Linked DNA regions of Homo sapiens: region 2 is linked to region 1. A link means that fine-mapping ties the variant in region 1 to the expression of a gene that starts in the linked region. Tissue or cell type: whole blood. Region 1 holds a variant in brackets; the other region holds the start of a gene. All regions are shown on one strand. Distances are from middle to middle.

What was found. PIP is the estimated chance that this variant, and not a neighbour inherited with it, causes the effect.
Region 2: ME1 starts here. The variant in region 1 is fine-mapped to the expression of ME1 in whole blood (TOPMed, PIP above 0.99). The same link has a PIP of 0.9 or more in blood mononuclear cells.

The regions. Positions count from the first base shown.
Region 1 is chr6:83,455,239-83,463,426 of GRCh38, forward strand. No RefSeq gene overlaps it. Among named protein-coding and RNA genes, the nearest start is that of ME1, 28 kb to the left of the region's middle. The variant AT/A (reference allele first, on the strand shown) is at 4,606.
Region 2 is chr6:83,426,229-83,434,416 of GRCh38, forward strand. It overlaps ME1 (malic enzyme 1), which reads right to left and starts at 4,823. Exons shown (of 14, transcript NM_002395.6): 1 at 4,649-4,823. The coding sequence starts at 4,726. RefSeq lists enhancers at 4,037-4,306, 4,927-5,096, 5,039-6,238 and a silencer at 4,527-4,716.

The sequences.
Region 1 (8,188 bases):
AAATAATAAACCATGGCTTCTAGATGATCATAAGGGACTAACTTTGTGAGAGAGCATTTCCAAAATTTTAAGCATGTTCCAACTTCCCAATTTTGCTAATTATTTTTGGTTTAGCTTTTTCCCCCCAGACAATGCCTCACTCTTGTCACCCAAGCTGGAGTGCTGTGGTGATATCAGCTTACTGTAGCCTCAACCTCCTGGGCTCAAGCTATCCTCCCATCCCAGCCTCACAAGTAGCTGGTACTACAGGTGTACCATGCCAGGCTAATTTTTGTTTTTGTTTCGTAGAGCCAGGGTCTCACTATGTTGCCCAGGCTAGTCTCCATCTCCTAGGCTCAAATAGTCCTCCCACCTCTGCCTTCCAAAGTGCTGAGATTACAAGTGCGAGCCACCGTGTCTGGCCTGGTTTAGCTCTTTAATGCTTATAAATAAGAATATTCCTACATAATAGTCTTAAAAGTCTATGATGTTTGTCAGCTATTCATATGAAATTAATATGCTTTAAGATTCACATAAAAATTAAGAGTAAAAGTAACATACTGTATCTGTAGAATATTAAAAATTAGCATGTTTAATCAATCATTACAACATGAAAGTGACTTGTGGTAACCAAAGGAATCATAAAATCACTGAAAGTGAAAAAGTCAAGTGAATTCAGGGCAAGGTAGATGATAACTAAAAACGTATTTACAAAACTGGAGGAAAAGGGTCTTTTCTGGGTGCTCATCCAGCATACAGAAATTGTCTGGCAAATGTCAGTTTTCTTCTTTACTATTTGTTATATATTCAATAGTTGGCAAAAGGAAACACAGTTATGTAGTTTTGTCTTATTTTACACTATAGACATGTTCCTTAGAAGTATGAGTTGAAATTTTGTAAAATAAGTATCTTAAATGGACTATTGGAATTTGCTTTAATGGTCTTTGTTAGTAAATTATAATCTTATGACTTCTTCATTGTGTAAACCTCAACAATTTTAAATCAATTTGCTTAATTTTGCTTCAACAACAACGAAACAAAACAAAACAAAAAAACCTTTCTAGCTATTATGTAATGGGTCCTATCTCCTTGGCATAAGATTCAGAATAAAAAGTCAGTATGTAATACCTCCCTATTATAGGCCAATTATGAAATAAACTACTAAAATCTATTTATTCTTATGTGTCAGCATGGTGGGATCCAGGACCAGGAGTTCCATTATTCTGCCTTTGGTTGAATGCAGCACCCCAAACTCCTTATCAGAGAGTAAGTATAATTCATTCAAAATGATTCTTTCATATAAACATCCTCATCATGTTATAAAAATTTAAGCATCTCTTGGAGAAACTTATCACTATGCAATTCCCAGGAGAAAATTAAAACTTTTGAAAACAACTGAAAATAGATGATGGTGACCAACAGTGGAGAAAAAGACAAGTCAGACATAGGAGAGAATATAGTGTCTGGGAGAAACCAGCCCACAGCTGTATACCCACAGCTAAAAAATGTGGAATTTCTGATGGCTGGAGCTACAGTAGCTTATTTTCAGACTAAGGCCAATTGTAGTATGCCAACATCCTCATATTCTGCTGAAACACATTTGCCAAAATTGTTCTTTCCTTCATTATATATGTTACTTTTCCTTTTCTCTTCTGTATATCCCACATTTTTAAATATATAATTCACTGTCAGAAGAAGATATAATTTCTTTTGAACACATGTAATATATAAAATCATGCCTTTACATCACAAGAATCTTTAGAAGATGTTCTGACTTAGTCTTTATAAAGGTTTTTATTTTAACTCCTCTAAGGAAAAGAATGCATCAATAACATCATGCAATAATAGATTATTATTAAATGTATTGAGAGTAACCCAAATGTTTATGGTTTTACAATTTGGCATTTTTATTTGAGTAAGCATAAAGAAGGTGCTTATTTCCAAGATTAAATAACTTCATGTAGATTACAAAACAGCCAGAGTATCTTGTAACCATGTAACCATGAGGAATATTAACACTTCTGCCCCTGCAACACCCATACCAGCAATTATTTGTCATGTTCTTGACTTTGAACACTCTTCCACAATTCATTTTGTGTCCCCTGAAGGAGACTGAAAACTAAACTAAAATCATTGGTGCCTGTTTTATACTAGGCATTTTACTAGGCACTTTCATATACATTATCTAACTTAATTCTCACTGCCACCATCCAAAGTGAGTACAAGCGTCTCTAATCGCCAGTGATAATTTCTCTTTGGAGAATGATCCAGATTATAGACATTACATTTAATAGCAGCAGTTTTTCTGCAGATCAAATGATGATGAGGTAATTTGAGCCTACATTGTCCAGTGTGGCAGGCACCAGTCACGTGGCTATTTAAATTTCAATCAATAAAAATGAAAAATTCAGTTTCACAGTCTCACTTGCCACATTTCAAGTGCTCAATAGCCACATGTGGCTAGTGAGTAGTTTTACTAGTGAGCAGTTCTTGCCACTTTTACAACCCAGGAATATCTTGTCTCAAGGACCTGAGAGCAATTTCTTTGAAATATAGTTATCAAAGGATATAGTACTCCTATCTCCTAGTTCCTGTGGGATAGTAGGAGCCTAACTTTAGTGGGCATCTGCTCCAAGTTGCAAAACTACCTTCTAACATAAACATATGAGAAGTTTATTTTTACTTTGGATAAAGCCAATTAGCAAACACAGATGGCCTAAGACTTTCCCCTAATGTCCTCCAGTACTGTCCACCAGTTCAACCGAGCCCTTAAAAAACCCTACCCCCTCTGCCTCAGTGGAGTCAAGTTCAGAGTTTGTTCTGGCCTCTCTCCCCTACTGCAATAGCCTTGAATAGAGTAATGTCATCCTGGCCTATTTTACTTTGCCTGGTACAATTGTTTTTTGTTTGTTTGTTTGTTTGTTTTGTTTTGTTTTGTTGTTTGTTTTTTGAGACGGAGTCTCGCTCTGTTGCCCAGGTTGGGCAACAGATCTCGGCTCACTGCAAGATCTGCCTCCCAGGTTCACGCCATTCTCCTACCTCAGCCTCCCGTGTAGCTGGGACTACAGGTGCCCGCCAGCACGCCCGGCTAATTTTTTGTATTTTTAGTAGACACGGGGTTTCACCGTGTTAGTCAGGATGGTCTTGATCTCCTGACCTCGTGATCCGCCCGCCTCGGCCTCCCAAAGTGCTGGGATTACAGGCGTGAGCCACCATGCCCAGCCACCTGGTACAATTTTTGCTTTAACACCAGTTTTCAGAAAATGAAAATAGTAATTCAAAATAGTGTAAGCCGAGTGCAGTGGCACATGCTGGAGTGCAGTAGTCACAGCTACTTGGGAGGATGAGGTGGGAGGATCACTTGAGCCTAGGAGATCAAATGTAACCTGGGTAACAGAGTTAAACCCCATCTCAAAAAAAAAGTGTAAGTCTTAATTCATACTGAAAATAGTTTTAATGTTTTCTTAAGCTGAATGATCTACATAAGTAATCATATACAGGTAATAATGTGGCAAAGTGAAATGATTTGATTACAGAAATAAATCTAATTCCAGGATTTAAGGATGTAGAGTTGCAATTACATAAGCTATACCTGACACCACTTCAGCATCACACATATTTATCACCCGGTTTAGCTGTTCTGCTGTGAATGCATTATGGAAAAGGTAGCCAAGTTTTTTGGTCTAGGAATACTTTCTTCTGGAACATGGCCTTCCTCTAGCTGAATATAGCAGAAGACCCCAGCTAGGTTCACTGATGGGTCTTTCTATAATAGCAATCTATTTCCATTATGATTCTCAGGCCCAGCCAAGGCCACACACATTCCAAATCTATACTCTCAGGTCTTCCTAGAATTTATATTCTCTGCAAATTCAAGGAATTAATCATAGTGTCTTTCAGCTTTTTCTCAGAATTTTCCCAAAGTTAAATCACTGTTAATAAAACATACGTTCTTCACAGAGAGTAAATCCAACAGTTTGTAGAGAGACAGCTCTTCAGGGTGATTTTCTTCTCTTTCTTAGTGGCATCCCGGGGGATTTACTTCCATTATCATCTGAGCACAAAAGAGGATCAAAAATTTTGGCCACCGTTTAGCTCTATTTCCTGGTTTAACTACTTTTTTTTTTTTTTTTAACCAGACTTAAAAGAGATGGTTCTTTGGGGAGAGGGGATGGTACAAGAAGAATCACAAATTTTCATTAAAATCCCTGATAATAATTGGCTGTATTTATACATTTCTGGTGATTTATAATTTTCAGAAAGCTTTCATGTTAATTCTTTTAATCCTCCCAAAAATCCTATGAGGTTGGTGTTCATATATGCCCTATTTTACCAAAAGAAAACAAAACAAAAAACTAGGAAACTTAGAGACACGGAGTAGCAATCCAAGCTTACAGAACAGTTGTTTGCCTCCACTGTCCCCACTTCTCACTGCCATTCTGATTTCCAGTTCCAACCCATGGAAACTTGTGCTTGGGCTCCTACCACTTGACTAAAACTACTCTCAACAAGGTCTCCAGTAACCTCTTTGTGGGACCCTTTCAGTCCTTATCTACCCAGACTATCATCAGCACTTGACTTTGTGGACCACACCCTTGCTTAGTTTCTGGGACACTACACTCATTT[AT/A]TTTTTTTTTTCTCTTGCTTAATCTGTTTCTCTTTTAAGGACTCCACTTCCTCTATCTCAGAGCTTCCCAACAAACAGGAAACAAAGAGATATTGTTTCACCCATGTGGGACCTGGAAGTACAGAACCTTATAGCTGATTGCTATCATTAGAAGCATTTTTATTTTGTGTTCCTGTGATGGTCATCCAAGAAAAGTGGATCTGAAAGTGTGCCTCCCTCCGTCCCAGCATCATATGGCACTCACTGTTCTATTGAGTAGATCTGGGAGAGGCCAAGTTGGACATCAACTTTGGTAGCCCAAAGAGGAGAGTGCACAGCTCAAGATACAACTGCCTGTGCAGGGGAAGCCAGGTAGGGGTTCTTTCCTATTGGAGCTGCAAGCAGGATAAAATTCTGTCTTCAAATATATTAGTGTTTATTTCTTATGGCACAATGTTTAGAAATAAAGAAATATATAAAATTTGTGCTGACTACAATTTTAGTAGTGTTCTTTCTAGCTATAGTATGACTATCCTAATAATGTGTTTGTTCATCAAGAGAAAATTTGATTGTATTCAAAATCATCATCTTTGCAAGAAATTTACTATTACATTTGTCACTGAAAAAAAGGGATGATAGATTCTTTAGATATAATTCCAACTGTCATAAATTGTTAAGTAGTTATAAAAAATATTCTCACTTTTTAAACTACCTACTCATATGAACATTTCCCACCAATGGTAATGATCACATATAATTAGAAAGAAAGTATACCAATTTCAAACATAAAATCTGATATTAAAAAGTTAGGTTAAATATTATATCAATTCAATATTTAGCACCCCTACTACTTTTTAAAATTTTTCTTATTATAGTTATAGAATATAAAGAAAGTATTAAGAATTGTGTCCCTACCCAAAAAAGATGGGTTAAAATCCTAACTCCCAGTACCTCAAAATAAGACCTCATTTCAAAATAGGTTCTGATATGGTTTGTATGTTTGTCCCATCCAAATCTCATGTTGAAATATGATCCTCAGTGTTAGAGGTGGGGCCTGGTGGGAAGTGTTTGTCTCAAGGGGACAGATCCCTCATGAATGACTTGGTGCCATCCTCGAAATAATGAGTGAGTTCTTGTTCTATACATGCAGGATCTGGTTGTTTAAAAGAATGTGGCACCTCTCCCTCCTCACTCCTTCTCTTGCCATGTGACACTTCCTGCTCCCTTTTGCCTTCCCCAGTCATTGTGAACTTCTTGAGGTCCTCACAAGAAGCAGATGCCCGTGCCACACTTCTTACATAGCTTGCAGAACTGTGAGCTAAATAAACCTCTTTTCTTTACAAATTACCCAGCCTCAGGTATTCCTATATAGCAATGTAAAAACAGCCTAATACAGGGTCATTACAGATGTAATTAGTTAAGATGAAGTCATACTAATGTGGAGTGGACCTCTAATCCAATATGTGTTCTTATAAGAAGATAGCCATGTGAAGACAGAGAGACACACAAGGAGAACACCATGTTAAGATGAAGGCAGATACTGAATTGCTGCAAGTCGAGGAACACCAAAGATTGATGGCAAATCACCAGAAGCAAGGAAGAGGCAAGGAAGGATTGCCATACAGGCTTCAGAAGGAACATGGCTCTGCTGACATCTTGATTTTGGACTTTTAGTCTCCATAAACGTAAGATGATAAATATTTGTTGTTTCAAGCCATCCAGTTTGTGGTACTTTGTTGTAGTAGCCCTAGGAAACTAACACAGAAAGTAAAGAAAAATGTCATGCAGCCTTATATAAATACTCCTAGATGTCTCACAGTTTACCCAGTGTGTCATACAAATGCTATTTTCCATGTCTGCTATGACATGTAAACAGTTGGGAAGCACAGTCCACCACCATTTCTGAAAACACTGGCATTTCCTAGGAGGATTTGTCCTTGATCCTCTTTTCCTCTCATAGTTAACCCATTCTTGCTGGGTAATTTTACCAACTCAGTTTTCACCTGAATGTTAATTATTTCAAATCTGTGTCCCCAAGCCCAGGTGTCTTTAAGCCCAGATGTCTCTCTTGAGTCCCAGGTTCTATACCCAACTATCCATGACACTTGGAGGTCCTACAGTCACTGAGACTGCAAAATCCAATTGGGACAATTAAAAAAACAAAACAAAACTCCAGGTGGCCTAAATTTAGATTATCAAGAGGGGCTTGGAGATGTAGATGTTTGGGTATTGCTTCAGGATATAGCTCTATTATTTTTGTTTGTTTGTTTTAGCCAGAGATCCATCCCTAGGACCTTTCTTGAGTTCATCTCCCATCAAAGTGAAGACAGTGTGAAGAACCATTCCTGGAAAATATCATCATGTTGAGGAATCTCAAATTCTGGCTAAATGTAGTACACAATCTATGAAAATTCATTCACCCTAAGATAGAGCCAAACATGCCACATATAATAGCTACCTAGCTCATGGTGTTAAAGAGAAATTATTCACTGGACATTTGTTGAAAATGACAAGACAGAATTTGTTTGAGCTACTGCAATAGAAGAGAAATACTTCAGTACAGAACTAAACCCAATTTTGCAGAAATAAAAGGTGGGAGGCTTTTTAAACATCTGGGTGTACTAAAGAAAAAGTACTGAAGGACAGGACATTAGTGGGGGTTGGCTCAAAATGATTATTAGTCTGTCTTTGTCTGTCAATTGGAACTTATCAAAGTTAGGCACCTACACTCCCAGGGAGACTGCACAACAGGGCCTTATCTTTCTTGGTGATTACACTTCAAAGGGATGGCTCCCAGGTCCTTGAGAAAGACATTCCTGGAATGTAGAGGATACACCTCAAAGAGAGAAAAGATTTACAATAGCAAGTTTTCTAAAGTAAATGCTCTAAGAAAAGAGAGATCAGGGGCCTATACTCAGGTTTTGGGCTGGAATGAACAGTAAATTCTTTTGGCAGTGTTGAGCTTTCTCAGGCAGGCATTTTAAGGGATCTGGGTTTGTCATCCTGGGAACACAGCCTCGAGCTTACAGAAACTATACTAGTGTTTGCCCATGTCTCTTAGTTGGGAGGGCAGGAGGAGTTGGGAGAAATAGTTTGTGCTTTCAGTCGCTGCTCTTATAGGCCAGGATTGAGGCCTAGTCAAGAAAAGGGCTTAGAGGAGCCTAACCAAAGTTTGGTCAAGAAGAGTCTTTGTCAACGACTGTAGGAATCAATATAAATTTCCTCCCATCACACTAGTGTTCTTAAAGCTGTTAAGTTTTCACTATATTTTAAATATTTTGTGAAAAGCGTGGGTCAGACTAGATGAACTTGAGATGTCTATTAACATCAATGTCCAAGAGGCAGAAATTTAATTCATATTAGTGGGGTGAGAATAGAATGTTTTAGAAAAGCTAATGATGAGCCTTCTGATATCTCTGTCTTTGGTTTGCATCTTTCATTATAAGTAAGCAAGTGGACTCTGTACCCTTCTTAGATATCTTACCTTGAAACATGCTTTTTTCTTGAGGGAAAAACCCAAATCATTGAACAGATATTTATTAAGTACCTACTATAAATTAGGAACTTTTCTAGGCATTGGGGCCACAGCAGTAAACAAGACCA
Region 2 (8,188 bases), 29 kb before region 1:
GAGGGAAATCAGAGCTGAAAAAGGCAAAATCTCAAATCCATTCCTTTCTTCAATATTTTTTATACTCCATATCACCTGTCTCAAGAGTTACCATATCAAACTCACCTTTCTTATTACAGCACACATTTTGTTATTGTGATATTCTATACTACTACTGTTGTTTCCACTGCAGCAAGGTAACAAACATATACAGAGGTACCTGGCTGTATATGACTTTCACATAAGTGGGATTCTATGTTAAATAATAAATCAGTTTCTCACGTTGCAGAGGCAACTCTAGAGAATGTGGTTGGATGAAATTTTCTGAATAATTCATTCAGGTCTAGTTTACATTGAAGAAAAAGAGGTTTAGGGTACTTTTCCTTCATTGCCATGAATCTTATTTCTCTCTCTTTCTTACAACACACCCAACTAGGTCTTGTCATGCCAGGAAACAAACAGCTACAAAAGCTGATTTTTTAGATGTAAAAGTTAGTAATGATGACCCAAATTAACTTCGATAAAACACTATCTTCTACTGGAACGTAACTCTTAAACATGACTTATACTGAACCAAACTGCCTAAAATATGGAAGAGTGGTGTTGTTTGGAGATTTACTTATGGGTCATGTTATTATTTACTCTTAAGATATAGAAACCATGTAAGCACAATTATGATAGAACTATCAATTAGTGTTTTCTACCATTGCAAAGGGAAATAAACTAATTGAGAATAAAAAATAGGCATGATTATTTTATTATGTGTAGAATTTTAATTTTGAAGGGCAATTTATGAAATATTATTAGTCACATGAAAATTATTGAGAAAAAAATTTAAAACACAACTCATCTATATTAGACCATATCCCTGAAAATAAAAAACATTAAACATTAAATTAGACACATTTATATAAAACCGGCAAAGATAAGCATCTCAAAAATAGTTAGGGCTATGCACAGAAAAATATTAAATCTCATAAACATGAGGCAGATTTACTTCCCCAATTGTTTTGATGAAATCCTACCTTGAATGATGCATATTTTAATACAAACAAATAGTAAGGCTTAGACTCATACATGAATCATAACAAATGAAGATCCTAATTCTCTTAAGTTTTTTGAAAATTTTTGAATTCATACCATATCTACTGTTAACTTTGATTTTACCAAGATGAAGCACCTCCCTTAGGTTATCCAGCAAGTAATTAAAATTTCATGAGATTATCAAGCTTAAACCACATTTCAACTTTTCTGACTACATTTCAGCATACTATATAATGGCATAGGAAGTGAACTAAACTTTAGACTTCAATGTGAATTTATTTTCACAAAATTACTTTAAAGAGGACAATGCCTAAACTATCACTTTAAAAGCTGAGTTCTGTTTAAAGACAAAAATAAAGACATGGCTCATTCATTAAGTAAACATTTATTTAATGTCTACTGAGCAAAATACTGTACTAAATATTGTGACTCCTGCCCTATGACAATCAAAGAAATAAGAAAAAAAAATACAACTTATGGCCGGGTGCAGTAGCTCACGCCTGTAATCCCAACACTTTTGGGAGGCCGAGGCGGGCAGATCACTTAAGGTCAGGAGTTTGAGACCAGCGTGGCCAACATGACCAAACCCTGTCTCTATTAAAATATAGAAATTAGCTGGGCATAGTGGCACATGCCTGTAATCTCAGCTACTCAGGAGGCTGAGGCACAAGAGTCACTTGAACCCAGGAGGTAGAGTTTGCAGTGAACCTAGATCACACCACTGCACTCCAGCCTGGGCAACAGAACAAGGCTCTGTCTCAAAAAAAAAAAAAGGAAAATAAAAAGACAAGTTAGTAAATACAAAATTATATAGTACAACTGAATACATAAAAACAGAGGTGTTAAATAATAAGACTAACATAACTAAGAAATGCTTCCCTAGAAAGATCATTATTAAATCAACTAAGACATTTTCATAGTAGAAATTACACACAAAAAGGAAAGAATTAAGAGATTCAGCAAATATATTTTAAGTGGAAGCCTACATTGGGGAACGAATAAGATAAATTTGGAGAAGACTGTAAACCCAATTGACAGACTGATTTTACATTAAACATAATAGGAAATAATAACATACTATAAATGCTTGGATAATAGAAAAGTGAAGAAAATGTTAATTAATGAAGGTGTCTCTTTCATATATATATGTAGAATGAACTATATCAATGGAAATAAAACCAGCAAAACTGTTGTTGCAGCTACCCAAAGGTAAATGATGAAGTTCTGTGTTAGTGTGGTTGAAGAAGACATGTGACAGGCTGGGTTGTTGAGGGAAGTAAAATCTACTCTTGTCTCTTTGGAGCCAAGGTTATTACAAAATAATAAGAATAAAAATAAGCCAAAACATTCCTGAGCTACTAGCAAAATTAAAGGCCTAGAGGTCTTGAATGTATGACAGATGAAGAAAGTCCCATAGCTGTAGTTTCAATGGTACATAGGAAACTCTGTTACTCCCATAAGGTACCAGATAACCATCCTAGAACTGAGTAAAAGATTATTCCATCGATTGCCTCCAAGTTGGTACACTGGATTGTGGATCCAATTTGACATAATGCAGATAAAAAGTTCAAGTATTACAAATTTGAAAATGTGCTTTTAACATATTAATGTTACATCTTATCTTTGATAGAAGATCTTTGTGATACTATTATTCTGAAGTAGGAATTAATCCTTAATTCCTAGTAACCTTGTGAACAGGAGTCACAAGGATTGTTATATCATAAATTCTTGGCTGGGCGCGGTGGCTCATGCCTGTAATCCCAGCACTTTGGGAGGCTGAGGCGGGTGGATCACGAAGCCAGGAGATCGAGACAATCCTGACTAACACGGTGAAACCCAGTCTGTACTAAAAGTACAAAAAATTTGCCGGGCATGGTGGCGGGCGCTTGTAGTCTCAGCTACTCGGGAGGCTGAGGCAGGAGAATGGCGTGAACCCAGGAGGTGGAGCTTGCAGTGAGCGGAGATCGCGCCACTGCACTCCAACCTGGGCGACAGAGCGCGACTCCGTCTCAAATAATAATAATAATAATAATAAATTCTTGATGTAAGCATAGTAAAGGCAATAATTACTCTTGCTCAGGGATTGCTCATGCCATCTACATACTCTTAATAGACACTCTTGCCCCCAACTTGAGGAAAATCAAACAGGTTATACAACTCATGTGGTCCTTCTTAAGTGTCAACCCACAACTTGGTCATAAATTACAGTAGGCAGGTGACACATACAAGTCACAAATAGTTTTGTCACATCAAATTTTACTTTTGTTCTACTGAAAATAGGTGGCAAACCTGCAGAATAATAAAAGAAAAGAAAAAACAATCAAACTAGCAATTAAATTTATTTTAAAGAAAGAAATAAGTTGGAATTATTTACAATTTAATAATGCTACATGACGGCAGATAGCACACAGTCATAGATTTGTAAAAGGTGCCTGTCACCACACACACAAAAAAAATCACTCACACTGACTATAACTTGTTAAATAAATCATGTCTTTAAGTCATTAATATGATCAACAAATCATCAGGAACACGACAAGGAAAAAGCTGAGCTTCTGTTCTTAATGTGAAATGCAGTCCACCAAAGAGACAACCAAAATAACTAAACAAACCTCTGTGCTGACTGATGGCATTTTCAGACTCCTGAATAAATAGGAAATGTCCAAAGCGCACGCACACACACACACAAAAGGAACAATCCCGAGACAAACCTGGCTGTAAAATAAGTGTGGAAGCAAAATGATAAATTCGGAGGTATTTTTTATTTGAGAGACATCCCGAGTGCTTATATTGCATCACCAGTGAAGGAAAATGAAATGTTACCAGGATCCGAAAAGGAGTCTCTGAACAGGGTGTACACTGAATTCCCCTTTAATAAAAAGAGAGCAGCTCTAAACAAAATTTTTTTTTAACTTCCAGAAAGCCAAATTAAAAACAAAACAAAACAAAACAAAACAAAAGAAAGAAAGAAAAGAAATGGCTTTACCCACAGTCCCATGTCTGGGACAGAGTTCTTCTACCAAGCCATGCAAAGTGTCCAAGACAGAGGCCACCCACCACGCATTCCCAGACTCTTAACCGTGTCACTCCAGAAACCGAGAGGACTTGGATTTCCAGATTGCTAACGTGATCTGAAGGCACTCAGTACACGTTTCTGTCTGGGCAGGACCAGTTGAGCCACTTCTCGCCTTATCAACTTCCAATAATTGCCACACTGTGTGTGCAACCAGTAAGTGAGTGGCACATGGAGTCTGACCTGGCACTCCATTCACACACTTTGTCTGATACTACTTTCATTGTCTGGGCTCTTGTTTTTGGAGAAGAGCTGCCGAAAAGTATCACCTTTTCCTCTATCACTAACCTTTACCTTTACCTCTATCCCTAACATGGGATGCCGAGGTGCAGAGGCACCAGCACTGCCCTGCCATCACTCTAGTGGATACGGACCCGATTAGGCGTCCTTCTTCCTTCTGCCCACACCAAGGCCCCCCAGGCCGCGGCCGCTCACCGGGAACCTTCCCAGGGGAGCGGCGGAGGGGCGAGGCCATGGTGCGGGGACCTGCAAGAGGGCCCTGACCCTGATAGAGAGGGGCCGATGGGCGGCCAGGTGGGCCTGCGGGTTTACCTTGTTGAGGTGAGGGTTCCGTGTCAGCAGGTAGCCGCGCTGATGGGTGTGGCGGCGACGGGGGGCTTCGGGCTCCATGGCTGGCGCCGGGTTCGGCGGCGGGGTCAGGCCGGGGCGGGCCGCACGCGCGGTGCAGGCGGCGGATGCTGCTGGGGTGACGGTGCTGACTGCAGCTGTGGCGGCGGCGGCCGCACTGGGAAAGGCCCAGCGGCTGGGGGCGGGCGTGGGTGGCGAGAGGGGGTGGACGCGTCGGGAGGGGCCCGAGCGAAGCCGGTGTCCCCAGCAGGGCAGCCTGCGAGAAGCGCTGAGTCATGGCAGGAGATCATCCGAGCCGGCGTGTGAGGAGGAGGAGGAAGAGCGAGTCCTGGCAGCGCTGCTGGTGGCGGAGCGGGGGTGGCGGCCGGAGCCCTTGGCTCCATAGGGCCTCTGCCCACCATGGGCTTATGATCACCGCTGTGGTCGCCTCTCTCCATGTGGGCATGCCTAAACGCAGTGCACTGGGTGGCTCTGCTGACCCCAGAGACCCAGGGCGGGGGCAGGGAGCGGGGAGCGTCAGGCCAGGATCCCCCTGCCCGGGAAGGCTGGAGAAAGTGCGAGAAGATGCCAGAAGGTGCGAACCTGAGCGGTTCAGGCAGAGCCGGCGGTCGCTCAGACACCTAGGGGGATTACAGGACGGAAGGACTCGTGAGGGGTCCCCAGAACTGTTGACAGAACACCTCGACAGGCTGAGGAGAATCAGACTCGTCTCTCCTGTCTTGTTAGCGTCTTGGAAGCCCTCTTTCTACAGATCCACAACCTTCGCCGTGCCATCCAGGATGCCGGCCATGCCCGGGGCCCTGAGGCCGGAGGGAACCAACCTTGACCCAGAATGCCGAGGCCCAAGGGAACTGGGAGGAAGCCCAGAGAGGAGAGCTCAGGCGCCACACCTGTCAGTTTCTACAGATTTTCCACCGGAATTGTATTTGAATGTCAATAAGATAAGAGTCAAGGTGTTAGGGTGCAAAGGCCCAATGAACAGTCCTGTTTATCTTGTATATTATTTCTCTGGGAGTTCTAGAAACCTGATGTTCAAGAACCACTGCTCTCTCTGAATAATGATGAGTAAGCAGTCTTTCAGGCCTTCCTCCCAACCTCAGGTGATCCGCCCGCCTCCGCCTTCCAAAGTGCTGGGATTATAGGTGTGAGCCACCGCGCCGGGCCATTTTTTTATTGTTTTATTGATATTTATGCTTGGAGGTTCATGGACTGGAGGAATAGTCAGATCATAGCCAAAAGGAGTGCCTGTCTGATAAAAATAAATTAATAGCAACAGACACTAAAGCCTTCTGTGCCCCAGTTTCCTTTTCAGTTAAATAGGATTGCTAGTTTCTGTCCCATTTGTCTCTGCATACTGATATTACAAAGGATAGTGTTTGAGATTATTTGCTGATTTTATATCTCCATATACTAGACACACATCCAATCACAGTGTTTTCATTTCTAGTTATGTTAACTTTGCCTTATCAGAAAGATTTCTTACAGTAATTGTATTTTGTCCGTATTTACATTTAGAAGCTTCTTTGACCTCGCCTGAATTATCTAGAATTCGTTGTTTTTATAGAGAATATTTTCTAGGCATCACAAAGTTCTTTTTGAAAAAAATCCTTGAAGTTAAATGACACCTTTCATTGTTAATTCTATACTCCATAAATACTCAATCCTACAACATCTAAGAAAAAGGTGTACTTTACACAACTCACTCTCCTGAATTAACTGAGACACATTACAGTTAGGGTGTTTTATGTGAGAGGAAACAGTTTAACAGCTGGCATGGGAGCCAATTCAAGCTGCTTAAGAAGAAACAAAAATGTTAGTACAACAGACCCTTATTATAATAAAGTACTTATTACATGAATTTAGATATACTACCTACCTGTTCCTGTTTCTGAGATTTAATATCTACAGATAGGAAAAGTGTTATAAGTACAGGGAGTAACCCACAAAGAGTATATGGCCTCTCCCTCAAAGGCAACATTACAAGGGGATTACAATATCCTGCCAGTAGTAGGTAAAGTTCACATCTTTCATCTGTATGTTTATTTTAATTATTAAAATAACCGCCGTCATCTTGAATGAAACAGGATAAGGCCTAGCTGAAGAAGCCATTTAGTACATTCATATGTAGTTCCAAGAATACTAGAAAGAACCTATTTTTCTACATAAATGTTAGCTAGAATATCAAAATTTTCAGTCTTTTTTAAATAATAATCTCATAAGGTTAGGTTTTATTTCCAAAAACGTAGGAAAACAGATGCAGAGAAAAAAACTGCTTTAATTTGCCTTGTAACAAACTGTGGTTGCACTGTCACTCTGAAAGCAATTGGTAATGTTAAGAATGGGTATCATTCACAAATTAAGAGACTAAAACATAGATTTCTGTTATACACAGGTGAGAATGCCATCAGTCAAAATCAGATTTTTCTTTCCCAAGTTATAGTTTAGCACACAAAGAGCTTTTACAACATAAAATATGATTGTAATAGATACTCTGATGTAATGTCAGTTGAGATTGCAAGTATAGAAAATTCAGGAAATAACTCTTAGTACATACAGCAATTCTAATATTTTACTTTCATGAGATAAAAAAGATTAATAGAAAAAATACATATCTAGGTGAGGATTTATAATATTAACTAAATGATTCTGTATTTCTTCACACAAAAAGCACACTACTACTATGTCTTCAAAATCTAGTGTGCATTTTATAACACATCTCAATTTAGACACCAAATTTTTATCAGAAATTTGATCTGTATTTCAATTTTATAAAACTTACATTTGCAATAGTAGACTCTCATACCTAACTTGTTGCAAATATACCTTAAAGTTTTCCAATGACTAAATTGAGTATCTGTTTTATATTTAAATTAAAATCAAATACAATTTAAACTGAGTATCTCATTTGCACTGGCCACATTTCAAATGCTTAGTAACATGCCAGTGACCATCGAATTAGAGAGCACAAGTCTAATCCAATGCATTTGGGCCCTTAATTAAATGTTTTAAATAAATAAAGATCAAATATACATACCTGTGTTATTGTAATGTTCATACAGATGTTGTTACATGAATCGCAGAGTAACTCAAGTTATACTACCTTATTAGTTTCACATATATAGCTATTTATAACCGTAAATGCATGCAACATACTGATTTTCTTTACAAAGCACTGATTCTTTTCCTTCTTCTCAGATAGTCAACCCAGTTGTTTCATTCCTCAAACCATTTTGTTAAAAGTTCACATCCCAGTTGATAACATGGCATATGGAATAAAATTCTAAATTAGTAAAACTGCATTTAAATAAACCTTCTGAAATTCAGATGTCCACATAACTATTGTACTTCAAGACAGCAAACTGCTGGAGAAATTTTGCACATACTCTCAACATTGCTGCCATTATTTTCCCCCCAACAGAGTCTCACGCTGTTGCCCAGGCTGGAGTGCAGTGGCGTAATCTTGGCTCACTGCGACCTCCGCCTCCTAGGTTCAAGTGATTCCCC